Linked DNA regions of Homo sapiens: region 1 is linked to region 2. Evidence: fine-mapped expression QTL. A gene starts in region 2. The other region holds a variant in brackets. All regions are shown on one strand. Distances are from middle to middle. Region 1 has its middle 29 kb from the start of ACVR1C. Region 2 holds the start of ACVR1C (activin A receptor type 1C).

Evidence for each region. PIP is the estimated chance that this variant, and not a neighbour inherited with it, causes the effect.
Region 1: its variant is the best candidate, but not a certain one, in a credible set for the expression of ACVR1C in sun-exposed skin (GTEx, PIP 0.83).

The regions. Positions count from the first base shown.
Region 1 is chr2:157,656,570-157,659,374 of GRCh38, reverse strand. No RefSeq gene overlaps it. Among named protein-coding and RNA genes, the nearest start is that of ACVR1C, 29 kb to the right of the region's middle. The variant A/G (reference allele first, on the strand shown) is at 1,377.
Region 2 is chr2:157,627,503-157,630,307 of GRCh38, reverse strand. It overlaps ACVR1C (activin A receptor type 1C), which reads left to right and starts at 1,444. Exons shown (of 9, transcript NM_145259.3): 1 at 1,444-1,736. The coding sequence starts at 1,664. RefSeq lists a silencer at 1,500-1,729.

The DNA of each region.
Region 1 (2,805 bases), 29 kb before region 2:
GGCAAGTTATGTGTAAAATTGTGAAGTAGGGTAAGTGGTTGGTGCTCTTGCACCTCCACCTTTCATGTCTTGTCTGTCTAGAGCACAAAATTTTGGCTTTTGAAGGGGATTCCAAATTTTCTGTAAAGATATTCAAAGCCAGGTTTCTTCCTGATTGCTTTCTTGGCTTCCTAATGTATTTTTCTTTACCTTTATTAGGCATAGGTAGAGCAGGGGTTAGCAAACCATGACCTGTGGACAAAATCTAGCCTGCAGCCTATTTTTGTAAATAAAGTTTATTGGAACACAGGCATATCCATTCATTTTCATACTGTCCATGGATACATTCTTGCTATAATGGCAGAGCTGAGTGGTTGCAAGAAAGACCCTGTGGCCTACAAAACCAAAATATTTACTATCTGACCCCTTATAATAAAAGCTTGCTGAGCCCTGGTCTTGAGTCCTTATCTAGGAGATCTTGGGAAGAGTCTAGGAGTTTGCTACTCCAGGTGTGGTCTGTGGACCAGCAGCATCAGACTGAAGGAGTTTACTATGAATACAGAAATCTTAGGTCCATCCCCAAACATAATAAATTAGAATCTGTATTTTAATAAGATCCTCGGGTGATTCATATGCATGTCGATGTTGGAGAAACACTGATCTAAGTATCTTTGGAGACTGAGGAGAACCCCCAATAGAACTCACTCTTGAGAATACATTGCTTCTAGGATATGCAAATAGTTTGGATGGTGGCCTAACATTAATGGTTTTCAGGAGTATCACTACGTTAACAGGCTATATGTCTTAACTGCAAGAAATAAAGCCTTGGTAATGGAATCTTAGGACTATGGAAACTGACAAAGTGAATATTTTGGAGGATGGAAGGACTCTAAGTATGCCTCAAATCACACCATTAGGCAGCCATGCACTTTGCCAAGAAGGCCAACTCTGAGCATGTTTTTTTTTTCTTTTTTGAGCCTAGGAGTGGCTGTGGAGCATTAGTGATGCTAGTCAGAAGGTGCGGCTGTTTGATTACACACCACAGTGCTCCATTTTATTGCAACGACAAAAATACCCCCACTCTCTGTCCACTTCACTGTTTCTGAGCTTTGAGTAAGAGAGGCTTGGTTGAATTTCTAAAAAGCTGTCATTTGCTATTCATAATTTATTTTGGTGGCTCTAACTTTTTAAAAAAAGTCATGCAGAAGAAGGCTATTTTTTTATTATTCTTGAGACATTACACTGGGGACAATTCCTGGAACCCTGTAAGAATCCTGGAACAGTGTGATAGTGTTTGCCATCAAACAAAGCTTCCATGTGATTACTAGCAAGGGCTGTGAAATATTCTGTAAGTGAGTTACGTGGTAAGGCAGATAGTGTCTCCAGCAGCACATGAT[A/G]TCCCTCTTTAGAGGAGGAGATTTGTTTACCCTTCCAAAATAATACAAAATAAAACCTAAAATCAAGGACACAGAGTACTCTTTTGTAAATGGGCAGACCCAGTATGTCCACCTAGGAAATTTAATAAATCTCCTCATTAGCTCCATCACTATAACATTTTGTTGCAGTGAGGAAGACACAGAAGTTGGTTTTGTTTGTCTGTTTTTGTTGCTGTTGTTTTGTTCAAGTCTTTTATTTCACTAACCTTGGGCTCAGATTCCTTTATTAAAGAGGAAAACATGCTCTAAATGTATTACCATATTAATTTACGTAAAAGTACACTTTGTATCATTTGGAAGCTGAGGATAATAGTTCTATGCACTCTCAATTCATAACTGTAACAGGAGATGGCCATGGATTAAAAACCATGGTTTTCATGTCACCTTTTTCTGCCCTTACTAAAACCATTTCTATAGCTGATAAATAATACCTTTGATTGGTTTTGAAAATTTTCTTTATTTCACTTTACCATATCTCTGTTGCAGTTTCAAATGAATCAATTAAAATAAAAATTGTGTCTAAAAGACAAAAAGAGAAACAAAAGAGACTTCAATGTTCCAAAGTGGATATTCAGGCCCTCGAAATACGAAGCTGGTTATGTAGATTCATTGAAGTAGTCTCTCAGCTGGGAAGTGCTGGATATGCTGACCCAAGGAGATTTGCAATTCTAAATTTTAGCCGTATTCCATACTACCCTTGAATGACTTGACGCCCCATAGCTCAGGAGCACAGGGTGAATGGGGCAATTATACAGATTTAAAATTCTGGATTGTTGCATGTTGCTCTTGTCAAAATCCTTCACTGTTATAAATGCAGTCTACATATCTAGGGAATGGGGCTATCTATAAATGTTCTCCATATGGAGGGAAGTTTACCTCCTCCTTCTGTAGCGAGCTGTTCTGATCCAAATAAACTCTGTGAATGGGTGAAACTCATGCTCCTTCCTTGTCTATTAGCTCACTTAAAAGTATCTATGATTCTATTTCCACAAATAGCTTCAGAGTATCTTCTATGGGCCAAGTCCTGTGTCAGCACAGGTTGTTTCAGTAACTCCTTACCAATACCTTGTAGGATAGGCATTATTCCACTCAAATTGTGGATGAAGAAACTAGACTCACAGAGAGAAGCTGTTCCCGCCACTCCACCATGCTGCATTGTTTTATGAGTGGGTTTAAAAGGCTTTATTTATTTATTTACTTATTTTTTCATCAAGTAATGATTAAGGCAATGAATATGTAATATGCCAACACTGCATTCCTTGTTGGAGATACAAAGGTAAATGCATCACTGTTTTTGGCCTCATGGACTCTATGCCAAACGGGAAGATATGGATTTCATTTTTTATTCCAAACTCAAGTTGTTTTTTCAATCTCTTTTGTTGCTTTTAGT
Region 2 (2,805 bases):
GCCAAACCAGACAAAATATAATGTGTCCTAGCAGTTTCTTGCCTTTTTAAAAAAGCATCTGTTTTGTGGGTGTCTGAAAGGGCTCAGATTTGTCCCACATCTCCAGTTTTTTGTTTGTTTGGATCCAGGATAAAACAAGAACAAAGTTTTTTTGTGCTTAGGAATATAAGATGGTGGCAGAAAAGATCCTCAGGATGCCACCCACATCTCAAAGTCCAACAACCATCTCATCTCCCATACTGTGATCCTTTGATAATAAAGTCAATTACATACAACATTTCACCATAGGTCTTTCATAGAACTTAGAACACCTAGCATATAATTTAGTCCTGAGCTAGGTGAAGAAGCAAGAAATGTTTTACTCTAAAGCAATTTTTATGACGCTATCACTTTTCAAGGAACCCCCAACAGTAGTAATAACACCAGTATTGTATTCTTGCTTTTTCGCGTTGTTCAGATTGAAATAATCCCATTCACTTTAATGTTCAGGCTCCATAGGTGAATTGAATTTAATTTCTATAAATTGGTAATGTTGCCGTTGTCCTTATATTTTCAGGCACAATCCAGGCCTTATATTTTCAGGCACCCGTTTGACAGTTAGCCTCTAGGGATTAAACAATACTCAAACAAGTTTTTCATATACTACTTTAAACAATTCTTCCCCTTCCCTTAATCCGTGTGTGTGTGTGTGTGTGTGTGTGTGTGTGTGTGTGTGTGTGTATGTTCCCTTAGTTCTTCAATTGCTGAAGTTGTAGCTGCCGAAATTATCTTCCATAGGTGAGGTCTTTTACCACCAGACGTGGGTCACACATTGTAGATGGCCACATCACCTGGCGCAGGTGGTCCAGCTTTGGTCGCCATTCATAGAGGGAAGGGTTCCCAAAAGGCACCCAAGAAGAGATGAAGTTTGTTAAACCAAAGCTTATAGGTCCAGAAGGCAGTCGGACAACTGGTCATTTCCAGGGATGAACAGAGAGGGCGCCCTTCCCCAGAGGCACAAATGGCCAGGACGCAGGGGTGGGACAAGCCAGTAGGAAGCCCGCGGGGCTCTCACAGCGCAACCTGGTTGGACTTAAGGACCCTGGACAACAAACGTCAGGAGAGCTAGGAGGCTGGCTCTTCTGCGGGAGGTTATAGAGCGGATCACCTGGGCGCAATCGCCGCGTAGTTGAAGTTTCCCTAAAGTCTCAGTGGGGCTTTTCCTCCCGTGAGAAGCCCCATTCCTGAGTATCTAGTCCCGGAGGCTCCGCACTGCTTCCCCACGCCCCCTCTTTCTTCGCCCCAGCTCTGGGCGATCTCACTGCCGGGCACAGGGCCGCCTTTGCCTGCCTGCCCTGCAGCAGCAGGCCCGGGCGGCTGCGAGAGGGCGCAGGGGGCGGAGGCGCGGCAGGGGCGGGCTCTGCCGCCCGCCCCACCACCCGCTCCCCGCCCGGCTGCGGGGCCAGTGGCAGGAGCGCCGCGCACCGCCAGCCGCAGGGGGCGTGGGATGGGGGCGGCCGGGGAGGGGGGCGCCCACACTGACTAGAGCCAACCGCGCACTTCAAAAGGGTGTCGGTGCCGCGCTCCCCTCCCGCGGCCCGGGAACTTCAAAGCGGGCCGTGCTGCCCCGGCTGCCTCGCTCTGCTCTGGGGCCTCGCAGCCCCGGCGCGGCCGCCTGGTGGCGATGACCCGGGCGCTCTGCTCAGCGCTCCGCCAGGCTCTCCTGCTGCTCGCAGCGGCCGCCGAGCTCTCGCCAGGTACGGTGCTGGTTTCTCTCCCGACGCCCGCGAGGGTGGGAGCTGGGAGGAGGTCTGCGGGTGAGCACGGGGGTGGGGGACAGGGGGTGCTCCGAGCAAACTGACCTTCGGGGCGGACAGGGAAGCGCCAGTCGGATTGAGGGGGCGCGGGATAGGGTGCAGCGTGGGCACCTGACGTCTGGCAGCCGTAGGGGTAGACAGGTGTGTTGGGGACGAAGCCGCCCGGAAGAGGGAAAAGGCAGCAGGGACGTGGGGGAATAAGTAGTAGGGGTGAGGTGGGTGACTAATTTGTGGGCAGTTTGCAGCGGAGAAAATAGGAGAGCGTTTGTGGGTGCGCGCATGGCTGGGAGCTGGGTTCACCCTGCAGGGACCTGGAGGGCTGCAGGTATGCGTCGGACGCGCTCTGTGCTAAGCCCCTGAGAGCTGCTCAAGGATGGTGGCATGGTGGTGGTGGGAGGTGGTGATTTAGTCTGAGTTTTAGGAGGCGGGGAATACCCCAAAAGCCGCAGATGCCAAGCTATGGAGGCGAGAGTGGGAGCTTAAATCTGTGTGGTTTGCAACGCACATTGCTTTCGAGGTACGATCTTTACTCAGAGTTCCTGGGGAAAAAAATTCTGGCAAGCGCCCCAGAGTTTATAACAGGTCTGTGCCTTGATAGGCTAAATAGAGCCCTCTACCCAATCTAGAAGCCAGACGTTTCTTTATAATGTTTACTAGAAAGTGGGGCAAATGCATCTTTGGTAAAATCATAATATGCTGTGACTAAAAGCCCTTTACCTCGAAAACTATTTTCATTACATTGTCCTGGATTATGCAGAGGAGGAGCAGATTCTTTGCTAACTCATTCTTTAAAAATTTCTATCAGACATTGAAGACATTTGCACATAAAAATCTGGTGTTTTCCCATAGAGCTGTGTTTTGTCCGAAGCTGATTTTGATGCATTTTGTTTTCCCAGATGACAATCTGTTTGACATTAATAGCTATATTCATGGTGGGTCGTTTTCCTCTTAGTGACATGTGCAAGAGAATGATTTGAATGATATGATTGCTGTCATGTACAGATTTCAG